2 separate regions of the Homo sapiens genome follow, and region 2 is linked to region 1. Evidence: fine-mapped expression QTL. Tissue or cell type: fetal neocortex. Region 1 holds a variant in brackets; the other region holds the start of a gene. All regions are shown on one strand. Distances are from middle to middle.

Region 1 (8,103 bases):
CTCTACAAAAAATCGAAAAGTTAGCCGGGCCTGGTAGGGTGTACCTGTGATCCTGGCTACTCGGGAGGCTAAGGTAGGAGGATCACTTGAGCCTGGGAGGTCAACACTGCAGTGAGCCGTGATCACGCTACTGTACTCCAGCCTGGATGACAGAGTGAGACCCTGTCTCTAAAAATAAATAAATAAATGAAAGTAGTAAAAAAGTTAACGTGAGCTGTCTTATAGTCAAAATTTCCCTTACAAGTCCCTTAAAGTGCCCTTGAGGGTACATGGTTTTGTACATACTCACCCATACAGTAAATTGTATGTTTAAATGTTTAATGTATAGAGTAATGTACATTATAGAAAAGATTACAAAAATGTTATAACCTGTACATAACACAATTTTATAGTATAACACTTTTAATTCGCTGTGAAACGTGGGTACGGACAGGCAGCCTTGTGTGGGTCTCATGCTGTGCCCGTGCCCTCAGAGCTGGGCATTTGGAGGCTTCCCCAATGGCAGGTATGAGAGTCACTGCTGAGCCAGGTCAGGACAGGAGGCCAGTGGCAGAGACTTGGCTTGGATGGGAAATACGGAGCAAACCTCTGTGGCAAATCCAGCATTTCCACTGAGGAACCATTTGGTTCTCAGTGAAGATCTGTCTAGAAGCCACCTTTGCTTGTACTTAGTGGATAGTTTATTTGGGGTGGTTTGGCAGACGGTGCCAGCTATTTCTGGCACAAAGTGCAGCCGACCGCCACACACCTGTACATGGAAAGTTACGTGGAAGGCGTCCCCTCCGCCTCTCTCCACGGGCATTCTTTTTCTAAGTGAGAAGGGTGGGTTACTGTTGCCTGTCTCTCGCAGGAGTTGTGGGATCCCTGGAAATCGTCTTGCTCCTGTACTAAGTTTCTTTTTTGAGACAGAGTTTCACTCCGTCGCCCAATCTGGAGTGCAGTGGCGTGATCTTGGCTCACTGCAAAATCCGCCTCTCAGGTTCAAGTGATTCTCATTTCTCAGTCTCCTAAGTAGCTGGTACTACAGGTGCATAACACCACACCGGGCTAATTTTTGTATTTTTTGGTAGAGACAGGGTTTCACCATGTTGGCCAGGCTGGTCTCAAACTACTGACCTCAAGCGATCTACCCGCCTCGGCCTCCCAAAGTGCAGGGATTACAGGCGTGAGCCACCGTGCCCAACCTAAGCTGTTTTCTTTTCATTTTTGCTAGGCTGTTAGAGAAACGCTAGCATCCAGAATAGTGCTGTTTGGGACCTCAGCTCTGATTCCTGAAGTCTTCACCTACTTTTTTAAAAGGTAAGAGACACGGTCATATCCCCAGGTAGGGATTTGAAAGTCAAATCCTTATAAAACCTGTCAGATACTGACCCTGGTGGAGGGTGGGGAGAAGTTGGCTCAGTAACCTTCCCATAAACACACATCACAGCTAAGACAGGCGGATTGATTGTGGCAGGCGTGGAAATCCGGGTGTACGGATTCCACCGAATGGGGAATCCAGCCCAGGCTCTGCCTCCAGTTACCCCGTGTCCTTGGCGTGTCGAAGGACCTTCCACGGCCATTTCCTCACCTCTAGAATGAGGGGCTTGGATGATTTGCAGGTTCCCCTGGCTCTCATGTGCTGTGAATATTGCTCAAGCCCTCCTCTCTAAACCCCCATTCCAAGTATGTTTTAAATGAGCTTCAGCGACTCCGAATTCAGATCCATCCCTTTTAAGAAGCCAGAAATGGCCTACGAGGCGGAGGACCTGGGCATCCATCAGGGTTCCTGTGGCCACCAGTATGAGAAACCTAACCTGCAGGAGCTCAGACCCGAGGGGAGACGTTGGGGCTTTAGGGCCGGAACGGGCAAGGATTGCAGTCCATGGCAGCTTGAACAGAAGCTCCCCTGCTGGGCGCGCCTCCCTGTCATTCTCGTGGGTGTCGAGTCCTTCTCTCCTGCCAGATTGGCTTCTTCATATTGATGCGGGACCCACTTGCTAGTAACTCCCAGCTCATAGCCTCACAGCCTCCTGATCAGAGGTGGAACACAGCAAACCCCAGGGGAGGCAGGAATGTCTTCCCCTCAGGGCAGACTCCTGGGGAAGGATTCTGTGGGCCTGAGTTAGGTCGCATGCCTGGGGTGCACATCCCCCCCACCAGTGTGGCGAGGCTGGGAATCGCCTGCTAGGACCACACATGGAGCACATTTCCAAGAAGGAGGGATGGGATGGTGCGGTGGCTCACGCCTGTAATCCCAGCACTTTGGGAGGCCAAGGTGGGCAGATCACCTGAGGTCAGGAGTTCTAGACCATCCTGGCCAACATGGTGAACCCCGTCTCTACTGAAAATACAAAAATTAGCAAGGCGTGGTGGCGGGCGCCTATAATCCCAGCTACTCGGGAGGCTGAGGCAGGAGAATTGCTTGAACCCAGGAGGCGGAGATTGCAGTGAACCAAGATGGCACCATTACACTCCAGCCTGGGCGACAGAGGAAGATTCTCTCAAAAGAAAAAAACACAAAACAAACAAACAAAAACAACAAAAAAACAGGCCTTGATCTAGCTGTTCAGGTACAACAAAAAGAAAAAAGAACAGGCCCTGATCCAGGTGTTCAGGTACACACACACGTGCACACACACACACACACACACACACACACACACGCCCTGATTCAGCTGTTCAGAAAATAAGCCCTGATAGTTTAACATCACTTGTGAGCCATGCCTTGTCTCTTACAGGACCCAGTATTTCAGGAAAAACCCAGGGTCATTGTGGATTTTGAAACTGTCTTGTACTGTCCTGGCAATGGGACTGATGGTGCCATTTTCTTTTAGTATATTTCCACAGATTGGACAGGTAAGTGCCCCCATTCCTCTTTTCTCTCAAAGTTTTTTATTTTGCAGTTAGAAGAATAAAATAAGTTATTCTTCTTAAAACTCTGCAAAGTTTATAAAAATATAAAATAAGACCAGGTGCAGTGGCTCACACCTGTAATCCCAGCACTTTGGGAGGCCAAGGTGGGAAGATTGCTTGAGCCCAGGAGTTCAAGACCTGCCTAGGCAACATAGTGAGACCCCATCTCTACAAAAAATAATACACAAATTAGCTGGGTGTGATGATGCACACCTGTTGTCCCAGCTGCGCAGGAGACTGAGGTGGGAGGATCACCTGGGCCCAGGAGATTGAGGCTGCAGTGAGCCATGATTGCACCACTGCACTCCAGCCTGGCTGAGAGTGAGACCCTATTTCAAAAAAATAAAATAATAAAACAAAATACAATTGGCTTTTGAACAACCTGGGGGTTAGTAGTCAAAAATCCAAGTATAACCTTTGACTCCCTGAAAACTTAACCATTAATAGCTTACTGTTGACCGGAAGGCTTACCAATA[C/A]CATAAAAAGTCAAGTAACACATATTTTATATTTTATATGTGTTGTATACTGTATTCCTACAATAAACTAGAGAAAATAGAACGTTATTAAGAAAATCAGGCCAGGCGCGGTGGCTCATGCCTGTAATCTCAGCACTTTGGGACGCTGAGGCGGGCAGATAACTTGAGATCAGGAATTCAAGAGCAGCTTGGCCAACGTGGCAAAACTCCAGCTCTACTAAAAATACAAAAATTAGCCACGGTAGCTGTAATCTCAGCTACTCGGGAGGCTGAGGCAGGAGAATCGCTTGAACCTGGGGAGGTAGAGGTTGCAATGAGCCAAGATCATGACATTGTACTCCAGCCTGGGTGACAGAGTGAGACTCTGTCTCAAAAAAAAAAAAAAAAAAAATCATAAGAAAAAATATATTTACTGTTTATTAAGTGAAGGTGAGTCATCAGTTTCAGTGAGGATCAAAGTCTTCATCCTCGTCATCTTCATATTGAGTAGGCTGCGGAGGAGGAAGAGGGATTGGTCTTGCTGTCTCAGGGGTGACTGAGGGGGAAACAGTATATAAGTGGACCTGCATTGTTCAAACCTGCATTATTCAAGGGTTAATTGTAATGATATTTATATTTAATTCTATCCCTCAAATCTCTTGGTGCAGTTTTGGGTTCTGTTTTTCTTAACAATATTTCATAAGCCTTTTTTTCTGGGGCATAAAAAGAAATCTTTTAAAATTACTTAGAGAAATTTTAAATACTCCAAAATGTTCTATAACTACGCCCTCTCCAGTGGAACTTTCTGCAGTGATGGAAATGTTCTATAATAGATTGGTGCTGTCCAATTATGGTAGCCATGAGCTACGTGTGCTACTGAGCACTTCAGGAGAGGCTGGTGTGACTAGGGAACTGAATTGTAAATTAAGTTAAATTTTAAATTAGGTACTCTTGTGTGCTTAGTGGCTATTGGACAGCCCAGTTCTATAGATAATTTATAATATAATTTATGATGAGTCAGGCTGCTTGGACTCAGATTCCAGCTTCTCCATGACCTTGGTCAACTTGCTTAGTTTTCTTATCTGTTAAAGAGAGCTGAAGATAATGGCATCTCTGCAAAGGGTTGTTGCTTAGTAGGTAGCAAGGACATTTTTTTTTTTTTAAGTCAGAAAGCCAATTTTTTTAATTTCCAAAGCTCTGCCATAAATTGCTAGCAGATGTCAAAGACATTACTGATGCTAGCAGATATTAGCAATTTTTTTTTTTTGAGACGGAGTCTCGTTCTGTCACCCAGGCTGGAGTGCAGTGGCGCAATCTCGGCTCACTGCAAGCTCCACCTCTCGGGTTCATGCCATTCTCCTGCCTCAGCCTCCTGAGTAGCTGGGACTACAGGCGCCCGCCACCACACCCAGCTAATTTTTTGTATTTTTTAGTAGAAATGGGGTTTCACCATGTTAGCCAGGATGGTCTCGATCTCCTGACCTCGTGATCCGCCCGCCTCGGCCTCCCAAAGTGCTGGTATTACAGGCGTGAGCCACCACGCCCGGCTGATACTAGCAGTTTCTTGGCTAAACATTTCAAATGTTCATTTCTGTCACTATAAATATATATGTCCTCAAAAGCATTTATATTTATGGAATGATCTTGTTCAGAACCCACGTTTTATAGGTTTAGGTTGTAGGATCATTCATTCAAGCAACTTTGCCAGCACAACGTAGAAGTTTCAGATTATTTTAGATAGTTATGCCTATTACTATGCTATGGGCGAGGGGTTGGGGAGCGAGGCAGCATCTCAGAATAAAATTTCAGGCCAGGCACGGTGGCTCATGTCTGTAATTCCAACACTTTGGGAGACCAACGTGGGAAGATTGCTTGAGGCCAGGAGTTCCAGACCAGCCTGGGGAATGTAGTGAGACCTCGTCTCTACATAAAATGTTCTAAAAATTAGGTCGGGTGCTGTGGCTCATGCCTGTAATCCCAGCACTCTGGGAAGCCCAAGTGGGAGGATCACTTGAGCCCCGGCGTTCAAGACCAGCCAGGACAACATAGCAAGACCTCGTCTCTGCTAAAAATAAAAATTTGGCTGGGCACAGTGGGTCATGCCTGTAATCCCAGCACTTTGGGAGGCCGAGGTGGGAGGATCACTTGAGCTCAGGGTTCGAGACCAGTCTGAACCTCATCTCTCTTCTGAAAAAAATTGTTTAAAAAGAAAAAATAATAATTAGCCAGGCATGGTGGTATGTGCCTGTAGTCCTAGCTACTCAGGCAGCTGAGGTAGGAAGATCACCTGAGCATGGGAGGTCAAGGCTACAATGGGGTCACAGAGTGAGACCCTGTCTCGAAAAAAAAAAAATTAGTAGGGTGAAGCGGCACACACCTGCAGTCCCAGCTACTCAGAAGGCTGTGGTGAGAGGATCACTTGAGCCCAGGAGGGAGAGGGAAGAGTTCATCCCCAGTGGAGGATGGGAAGGGCTGAATGGGCACGTGAGGCTGCAAGGAACAGGCAGGATGCTGGGGGCCAGGTGGCAGGGCCTGCACAGCCAGGCCAAGGAGCAGGGCAGCAGGTAAGTCATGCAAGGTTGGAAGGGGCAGAACTCCCAGAGGCCAGAGTGGAGGCAGGAAAGGGAGTCAGTCTCACGCGTGACCTCAGATGCCAAGACTTGCTTGCTGGACTTTGGAAATATCCTGTTGGGGCCGGGCGTGGTGGCTCATGCCTGTAATCCCAGCACTTTGGGAGGCCGAGGCGGGCGGATCACGAGGTCAGGAGATTGAGACCATCCTGGCTAACACAGTGAAACCCCGTCTCTACTAAAAATACAAAAAAATTAGCCAGGCATGGTGGCAGGCGCCTGTAATCCCAGCTACTCGAGAGGCTGAGGCAGGAGAATGGTGTGAACCCTGGAGGCAGAGCTTGCGGTGAGCCGAGATCGCGCCACTGCACTCCAGTCTGGGCGACAGAGCAAGACTCCATATCAAAAAAAAAAAAAAAAAAAAAAATTCAAAACATTAGCTGGACGTGGTGGCGGGTGCCTGTAGTCCCAGCTACTCGGGAGGTTGAGGCAGGAGAATGGCGTGAACCCCAGAGGCGGAGCTTGCAGTGAGCCGAGGTCGCGCCACTGCACTCCAGCCTGGGTGACAGAGTGAGACTCCATCTCATTTAAAAAAAAAAAAAAAAAAGACACAAAATATCCTGTTGGCTCAAGGAGGGCATGGAGGTGCTTAGATGAGATAAGGAGTTATTACTAATTTTGTTAGGTGTGACAATGACATAGTAGTTTTGTAACTACTGTCATTACTATATCAAGTACTATATCAATAATGATAAGGTCTTTATCATTTGGAACTTGTAGGTGACATGACATGAGAATTGCCTTAAAATACTCAAGGAAAAAAATCCTACTGCTGGGTGTGGGAGGTGCTTGATGAAATGAGATCTGCAAATTGTTAATAGTGATTCCTGAGTGAGCACATGTGAGTTCATTACATTCCTTCTACATTTGTTTTTTGTTTGTTTGTGTGTTTGAGACAGGGTTTCTCACTCTGTTGCCCAGGCTGGAGGGCAGTGGTATGATCATGGCTTACTGCAGCCTTGACTCCCAGGCTCAAGTGATCCTCTGACCTCAGCCCCCCAAGTAGCTGGGACTACAGGAACGTACTACCACACCTGGCTAATTTTTTATTTTTTGTAGAGATAGGGTCCCACTATATTGCCCAGGCTGATTGCAAACTCCCCACCTCAAGCAATCCTCCTGATCTCGGCTCACTGTAACCTCCACCTCCCAGGTTCAAGTGATTCTCGTGCCTCAGCCACTGGAGTAGCTGGGATTACAGGTGTGTGCCACCACACCCAGCTAATTTTTGTATTTTTTGTACCATGTTAGCCGGGCTAGTCTTGAACTCCTGGCCTCAAGTGATCTACCTGCCTCAGCCTCCCTAAGTGTTGGGATTACAGGCATGAGCCATTGTGCCCAGCCATCTTAAAACTTTTTAATGGAAACTTTCAATTATAAACAAATGTAGAGATAAGTAAATAACAATAATGGGCCAAGGATGGTGGTGCGCGCCTGTAATCCCAATCCCAGCTACTCGGGTGGCTGAGGCATGAGAATGACTTGAACTTGGAGGGTGGAGGTTGCAGTGACCTGAGATGGTGCCACTGCACTCCAGCCTGCGCAACAGAGCAAGACTCTGTCTCAAAAAAAAAAAAAAAAAAAAAGTTTAAGAAGTTTCTTTACTGCTTGGGTGATTAAAAAAAAAAATAGGTTACATTTTCTGCTATAGATTAGACATTATTGAAAAAGATGGACTGTGAAATGGTTGCTTTCAGAAAATGATTTTTTTAACTTGGCTTCTAAGGCAAGAAAAACTATTAATAGAAACATTATGAATTTAACTATTTTTCAGATACAGTACTGTAGTCTTGAAGAGAAAATTCAGTCTCCAACAGAAGAAACAGAAATCTTTTATCACAGAGGGGTGTAGGCGTGAGTTTTAGGTGAATTTATGTGGTTCCTGCTTGAAAACCTTCCCCTCTCCAGGTTCGGTTTAGAGAACTTTGCCACAGGTCTTCTGGGGACCCCAGAGGTGTCTGTGCTGACAAGGCGACTTCAGATTCCATACTGAGATCGTTCCCAGGCTGGCGTCTCTGGGGTTTTTAAGGCTGGCTGGAGAAGACAGTGGGAGGGTGCCCCGTCTGACACCCCTGGGGTTGCTGAGGGAACGGTTGGAGTGGGGATCGGCCTGCGAAAGGATA
Region 2 (8,103 bases), 21 kb before region 1:
TGTACATTCTTTCTATGAAGATTTTTCCCGTGGGATTTCCCCCCATTTACCCAATAATTCATTCATAATAAACAGTTGTTGAACCTAGATAAAATACACCTCTGTCTCTTCCCATTTGCCTATAAGTTTCTTGCCAAGATGTGATACAGCAGCTCAAAGAATGCTTGCCAAGTCACTAATAGTCTTTGCTCTCTCTAGTTCAGTGACTTTCCGATACTGTGTAACATTCAGGGCACTATGTGAACTTGTAAGTGTGACCATACTGCATGTTTTATGGTGACCTGGTCCAGTACTGCCTTTGTTAAAGCATCTGTCATCAGTAAGAGATGATAAGTTTTTTGCACAACAGTGAAAACCCCACCTTTAAGCATATGATTACGCTTAATAAATATTTTATTAAAAGGAGAATTAAAGACCTAAAAGGGAAGAAGTTAGACTGTTCTAGTTCTGGTACTGTTGAGGCACTGATGAGGATAAATGATCATGCAGAGGTCTCTTCATAATTGACCCCAATGGAGTCATCAAGCATTTGAGCGTCAACGATCTCCCAGTGGGCCGAAGCGTGGAAGAAACCCTCCGCTTGGTGAAGGCGTTCCAGTATGTAGAAACACATGGAGAAGTCTGCCCAGCGAACTGGACACCGGATTCTCCTACGGTAGGTTTTTTTCCCCAAAAGCAGTGAGGTCCATGTTCTCTCAGCCTCGAGAGCTATTGACCTGAAATATCCACAAAAGGGAGCCCACTCTTGAAGCAAGCGTGCAGATGATATGCAAATGGGTGAAGCTGCTGTGGGGTAGAGGGGGTGGGGTGGGGAGCCAGGAACCAATTATCAGAGACAGGCAGGCCTTTTTTTTTTTTTTTGAGACGGAGTCTTGCTCTCGCCCAGGCTGGAGTGCAGTGGCGCTCTCTCAGCTCACTGCAAGCTCCGCCTCCTGGGTTCACGCCATTGTCCTGCCTCAGCCTCCTGAGTAGCTGGGACTACAGGGCGCCCACCACCACGGCTAATTTTTTGAATTTTAGTAGAGACGGGGTTTCACCGTGTTAGCCAGGATGGTCTGGATCTCCTGACCTCGTGATCCACCCGCCTTGGCCTCCCAAAGTGCTGGGATTACCGGCGTGAGCCACCGTGCCCGGCCTAGAGACAGGCAGGCCTTAATGAAACTTTCATCTTTATGTTTTAAAGGAAATCTTTAAAAGTTTAAAGAACTTTAGGTTAAAAATTGGGAGATTGCCACTCACTTTTGGGACTATTATTATGGTAAAGTCACAGTTACCTAATTAAGCTTTTGTATTTTCAGATCAAGCCAAGTCCAGCTGCTTCCAAAGAGTACTTTCAGAAGGTAAATCAGTAGATCACCCATGTGTATCTGCACCTTCTCAACTGAGAGAAGAACCACAGTTGAAACCTGCTTTTATCATTTTCAAGATGGTTATTTGTAGAAGGCAAGGAACCAATTATGCTTGTATTCATAAGTATTACTCTAAATGTTTTGTTTTTGTAATTCTGGCTAAGACCTTTTAAACATGGTTAGTTGCTAGTACAAGGAATCCTTTATTGGTAACATCTTGGTGGCTGGCTAGCTAGTTTCTACAGAACATAATTTGCCTCTATAGAAGGCTATTCTTAGATCATGTCTCAATGGAAACACTCTTCTTTCTTAGCCTTACTTGAATCTTGCCTATAATAAAGTAGAGCAACACACATTGAAAGCTTCTGATCAACGGTCCTGAAATTTTCATCTTGAATGTCTTTGTATTAAACTGAATTTTCTTTTAAGCTAACAAAGATCATAATTTTCAATGATTAGCCGTGTAACTCCTGCAATGAATGTTTATGTGATTGAAGCAAATGTGAATCGTATTATTTTAAAAAGTGGCAGAGTGACTTAACTGATCATGCATGATCCCTCATCCCTGAAATTGAGTTTATGTAGTCATTTTACTTATTTTATTCATTAGCTAACTTTGTCTATGTATATTTCTAGATATTGATTAGTGTAATCGATTATAAAGGATATTTATCAAATCCAGGGATTGCATTTTGAAATTATAATTATTTTCTTTGCTGAAGTATTCATTGTAAAACATACAAAATAAACATATTTTAAAACATTTGCATTTTACCACCAGTAACTGTTGGATCAGCTTATTTTGGGCTCTCCTTTCCTTCTCAGATTATCAACAAACATTTATTGAGCATTTACCTCAGGGGCCACAAAGAGAATAAGATGCTGGTTCCGCACTCAAGGAACTCGGTTTAGGGGCAAGACAGATAGGGAAACATTTTCTCGTTGTTTCAGTAAATCCTTGAGTGCCTACCCCGCACCAGGTGCTGTTTTCCAGGCACAAGAGCGAACAACGGACAAACCCCTGCTTTTAAGCTCTTACATTCTAGAGGGGAAACACCTCATACATGTAGTAAAAGTAGAGTGTTTGGAAGGAAAATAATGTGGAGTGAAACTGCTGAAGCGGAGTTGTAGGTGTTCTAGATGGGGTTGTCAAGGAAGGCCTTAAGGGAGAGCCTCTCTGGATCAATTTTCTCATTGTAAAATGAGGACAATAATTGTACTTATCTCAGGGTTTTGATGAGCATCGAGGGAGAGAAAACGCGTAGAAAGTGAGAGTATTACGGGGATAAGAGACTTCTAGGCAGAGGGCAGGGAAAACACAAAGGCCGTGAGGCAAGAGTGGGCTCAGAGCGGATGCAGATTTACTAGGAGGCCGGTGACTATGGCTGTGGTGGGGGTCCCAGAGTGCCTTTTGGCCAGGCCAAGGACTTTAGGTTCTGTTCTGGGGTGGGGAATGTCAGGAAGGATTTGAAAAGAAGAGTGACATCAACTTGTTCTAAGAGAATCACTCTGGCTCCTTTGTTAAGACGACATAGCAGTCCAAAGTGGGGAAGCAGGCCAGCGGGCTGGCTTTGTGACATCCTGGAGGGTAGAGACAACAGAATAGAACAGCACGCTACATACTGCACTGGTGCTTAGATGGATTTCTGCGGCATAAGGGTAGAAGTGGAGGGGGCACCTTACTCAACTCGGAGGGTCAGGGAAGGCTTCCTGGAAGAGGAGATAAACCCCTGGAGGTTAAGAAAAGTGAGCTAGGCAAACTGAGCAAATACAGAAGCAGAGTCATACAGGCCTGAAGGACGCCATGAGCCAATTTCCTGTTCCTGGAGGCGCAGGGCAAGGGAAGGAATTGGCCCGCTGGAGGTTAATGGCCAATACTGAGCACTTCTGAGGGCTCAGTGCTGTGTTAGGGATGTTTTATCTCCTTTGATCAGAAACAAAACCCTGAGATAGGTACAATTGTTATCCTCATTTTGCGGATGGGAAAATAGACTTCGAGATACTGACTTGGCGAGGGTCACACAACTAGATGATGTGCTGGGTCCCCCAGTCCTGGACTCCGGAGGCCCCCTGAACGACCTAGGCACACTTGTGGCTTCCGTGAATTTAAGTGCACACAGCCCCCGCCTGGCCCTGTGCTGGGGAAGGGCAGGTGGGAGGAGGAAGGGAAGGCAGGTTTTTCTTTACAAATGGTACCTATTTGGTAGTCAACAAAAGGAACTGGATTTGCCCCAACACTGGAAGAAAAAAAAAAACAACCTGTTGGGCTGAGGGATAGTGCACTGTGCCCAGGGCCCTATACTTGGTTTGATGCTCTGGTGTTACTCTCTTGAAATTCTCAGTAACATGAATAAGGGGCACCGCATTTGACATTTTCCCTGGGCTGAGACCATGATGCAGCCGGCCTGACTGCGCAACACCATGCACACTGGAATTCGTGGGCCATCGGAGGGATTTTCGAGGGTAATGACCAGGGGTAGGGCGCGGCAGAAGCGCAGGGTGAGGTTGCGGACGGCCTCACTCACAACCTTTCCGGGTCTTCGCATTAGGTACTGTGATGACGGGTTCCGATAGTGACCCCTTGGGGCCTGGAGACGGCCCGGCTCCCCAAAGGTGCGGAGCAGGGCAAGCAGGGTTGGGAGGACGTGGCCCGTGGGAGAGCTGCGCTCGCCGGAACAGTGGGCGCGCAAGGGCCCCGAGGCGCTGTGACACGGGACGTCGGGCGCGCGGGCCTGGGGCGGGAACTGCGGGTGCGCGCGGCCCGGGGCGGGGCTCGCCGCCCGGCTCCTCCTCCACGCGCGGCCTGGCGGCGGCGGCCACTCTAACCAGCGCAAAATGTCCCTGGAACAGGAGGAGGAAACGCAACCTGGGCGGCTCCTAGGACGCAGAGACGCCGTCCCCGCCTTCATTGAGCCCAACGTGCGCTTCTGGATCACCGAGCGCCAAGTACGGCCCGGGCCCGGCGCGACTAGGGGCAGGGAGGGGGCGGGCCGGGCCGCGTGGAGTCGGGCTGACCCGGGTGACCTTGGCCAGGCCACGTGGGCGCCCCCTGTCTCCGTTTCCTCCTCTCGGAGTTGTGCCGGGAACGCGCACCACCGGCCTTCACCCCTTAGGGCGCGGCAGGGGACGCAGGGGAAATCGAAGCTGCCAGATGCCCACGACCACAACGTCACCCTCCAGATTGCCCTCTCGGAGGGGCCCAGTCCGCGCAGGTGGCTGCTCCCTACTGCCTGAGCTGTGGCTGAGCAGCAGATTGGGGAGAAACAGGCTCTCGCACCTTGGTAAGCTCAGCCACTTTCGGTGAGACCCCCGAGGCTTTGGGAAGCCACCCTTGGGCAGGACATAAGCAGGACTTATCTCCCTGCAGCGTCTAGGGCAGCACCGTCCAATAGAAATATGATGTGAGCCTTACAGGTAATTAAACATTTTCTAGTAGCCACATTAAACAAGATAAAAACAGCTGAAATTTTTAACAATACAGTACATTTAGCCTAGCAGGTGCAAAATATTAACATTTCAACATGTAATCAGTAAAAAACATTGCTGAGATATTTTACTCGCTTTTTTGGTACAGAGTGTTCCAAATCCGGCGTCTGTTACCTTCACAGCACATCTGGGTTCAGCCGCATGTGGCGAATTGGAGAGCAGGGCTTTAGGGGGTTCTCTTTGAGGCCTCTCCTAAAGTGGGGTCCAGCCCTGTTTTTTTTTTAGGTGGGGAAATTGAGAAGGGGCGGTGAGCTCAGGTTGCTCCAGCAGAGCCAAGGCTTAAAGCCAGAACCACTACAAAGTTTAGAGTTTGCTGGAGCAAACCTCTTTTTCCCCAGTGTGACCCCAGCTGCACCATTGAGCCCTTAATGGGGCGTCCATCCTTTGTCACTGGAGTGAAGCCTTATAGCAAGCAGAGAGTGAGGCCACAGACTCTTGAGATATTCTAGGCCATTGCTTCGAGGTCGTATGTGAGATATGAACGTAAGACCATTTGAACCCCCAAAGTCTGGGATTTTAACCCTCAAGGGCAATTTGATACTGAGAGGTTAAGGGCACAGACTTCTGAATCATTTCCTGGCTGTGTTGCCTTGAGTACATTCAGGAGTCCCTCTAAGCCTCAGCTTCCTCACCTGGAGAACCTGGAGAGGTTGGGAGGATCCCAGGAGATGATGCCAGTAAAAGGCAGATCACAGACCCTGGCAGGTTCTCAGAAAAAAAAAAAAAAAGCCAACTGTTAGTATTTATATCTTTATTTTTCTGCTGCCATTAACCTCTCTGTTGCTTTTCTCCCTCCTAAGTCCTTTATTCGACGATTTCTTCAATGGACAGAATTATTAGATCCTACAAATGTGTTCATTTCAGTTGTAAGTATTGTTTTCAGAGCTAATGAATTTCACATTTTATTTTGAAACTTGAAGTCTGTGTGTCCCTTTTTTTTTTTTTTTTTTTTTTTTGAGACGGAGTTTCGTTCTTCTTGCCCAGGATGGAGTGCAGTGGCACCATCTCGGCTCACAAGAACCTCTACCTCCCAGGTTCAAGCGATTCTCCTGCCTCAGCCTTCCGAGTAGCTGGGATTGCAGGCATGCGCCACCATGCCCGGCTAATTTTGTATTTTTAGTAGAGACGGGGGTTTCTCCATGTTGGTCAGGCTGGTCTTGAACTCCCGACCTCAGGCCCTGCCCACGTGTCCCTTTTAAAAGCAGTTGAAATAACAGAATCTACATATATTATTGTGTTTATTCCTTCTAAATGAGCTTGTCAGATTGGAAGGGGTAAGGAAAAGCGTACATCTGACCGTGTGCCGTGGCTCATGCCTTTAATCCCAGCACTTTGGGAGGCCGAGGTGGGTGGATCACCTGAGGTCAGGAATTCGAGACCAGCCTGACCAACATGGTGAAACCGACGTCTCTACTAAAAATACAAACATTAGCTGGGTGTGGTGGCAGACACCTGTAATCCCAGCTATTCGGAAGGCTTGAGGTGGGCGAATCACTTTCTGAACCCAGGAGGTGGAGGTTGCAGTGAGCCGAGATCTTGCCACTGCACTCCAGCCTGCGTGACGAGCGAAACTCCATCCCCTTCCCCCAGCAAAAAAAGAAAAGAAAAGCGTACATCTGTTTAACAGGTAATATCAGGCCCAGGCCAGGTGCTGGGGATTCAGAGAGAATCAAACAAATCTTCCACGTGATGGAGGACAGACTGGCTAAACTGGTCACATCCTGGGTGACAAGAGTGAAACTCCATCTTTAAAAAAAAAAAAAGAAGAAAGAAAATGTAATAAAATTAGAAGCAAATATAACCAGATGTTTACAGTTGTTAATTCTGGGTGAGGGGATTATAGTGTGTAGCCATTCTTTGTAATTTTTGTATTTATTTTTTCTCAAATTAAGAAATGGAGGCTGGCTGTGGTGGCTCATGTCTATAATCCCAGCACTTTGAGAATCTGAGATGGGAGGATCTCTCGAGAATAAGAATTTGAGACCAGCCTGGGCAATGTAGCGAGACCCTATCTGTACAAATAAAAATAGAAAGTTAGCCAGGTGTAGTGGGTTGTGCCTGTAGTCGCAACTATTTGGGAGGCTGAGGCAAGAGGATCACTTAAGCCCAGAAGTTTAAGGCTGCAGTGAGCTATGATCACACCACTGCACTCCAGCCTGGGCAACAGAGTGAGACCCTGTCTCTTAAAAAACAATAAGAAAAGAAAGAAAGAAAAAGAGAGGAAATAAGACTGAACTGATAAGACATGGAAGTGGGTGAGGGAGAAGGACTTCTAGGTTTCTGACATGTATAGCCAGGGGATGGTGGTAACCATTCAGTGCGACAGTTGACATCAGAGAGTGGGGGAGGTGACAGCACCATTGGGGGCAGCTGCTGGAGCATCTAGGAAGAGGAAGGCATAAATCTGAATGGCACTCAGGGCTATCCTAATGGATAGAGAGCCTAGGGCACCATGTGGCTTGAAATCAGGCATGCAGTCGAAGTCCAGTGCATGCTGGTGAGTGAGCTGGTGATTCCTACCTCTGGGGATAAACCTGAACAATGTTGAGATCATTACTTGATTACTTGATATCTGATTTTAGGAAAGTATAGAAAACTCGAGGCAACTATTGTGCACAAATGAAGATGTTTCCAGCCCTGCCTCGGCGGACCAAAGGGTATGTTTCACGTGCTCAGGTCTGGCTGGTTGCCCTCAGATGGTTCTGCCTGCATGGTCTGAAGTCAGGTGGAATTTGGCCATTAATCTCTGTCTCCGTCTCTTTTCTTTCTTTTTTCCTTCCCTTGGGAGCCACTGTTCTATTGGCTATTAATGCTGTCATTGTTATATACTGCCCAGAGGACCAGCTTTGCAAAACTGGGTTAGTTTTTTAAATGTAGTTAGAATTCTGTCCCATAAACCAGACAGCAAGTTTCCTCCTACACAGTGGATATTTGTGGGGATTCCCTGCAGCTGATTCCTGGAGCCCAGTGGCAAACCCCAGAATTCAGACAGGGCTCTGACGTCAGAATTCATTCTCCACTGCAGGCAGCGTTCCTGCCGATAGGCTCAAACGGACTGTTCCTTATCTACCTTGCAGTATGTGGGGCTTTCTGGAGCTCACAAACACCAGCTCCTCAAGACAGCCTATGGAGAGCTCACATATTTAACTTTTTCTAAGAATGTGCTGGGGACCCTGGGCTGACAGCTTGGCTCTGTTGCAAGTAACTTGACTGATGGCATGGTGTGTCATCAGCACACAGCCTGCTCTGCTCTGAGCCAGAGGCAAGC

What was found. PIP is the estimated chance that this variant, and not a neighbour inherited with it, causes the effect.
Region 2: SFXN4 starts here. The variant in region 1 is fine-mapped to the expression of SFXN4 in fetal neocortex (Walker 2019, PIP 0.95).

Annotation. Positions count from the first base shown.
Region 1 is chr10:119,140,971-119,149,073 of GRCh38, reverse strand. SFXN4 (sideroflexin 4) reads left to right here. Exons shown (of 14, transcript NM_213649.2): 12 at 1,214-1,299; 13 at 2,721-2,838; 14 at 7,755-8,103. The coding sequence ends at 7,832. Among named protein-coding and RNA genes, the nearest start is that of SFXN4, 21 kb to the left of the region's middle. RefSeq lists an enhancer at 6,126-6,627. The variant C/A (reference allele first, on the strand shown) is at 3,372.
Region 2 is chr10:119,161,729-119,169,831 of GRCh38, reverse strand. SFXN4 (sideroflexin 4) reads left to right here and starts at 4,118. Exons shown (of 14, transcript NM_213649.2): 1 at 4,118-4,295; 2 at 5,636-5,701; 3 at 7,418-7,492. The coding sequence starts at 4,185. It overlaps PRDX3 (peroxiredoxin 3), which reads left to right. Exons shown (of 7, transcript NM_006793.5): 6 at 490-655; 7 at 1,299-2,112. The coding sequence ends at 1,352. RefSeq lists silencers at 3,970-4,439, 4,481-4,667.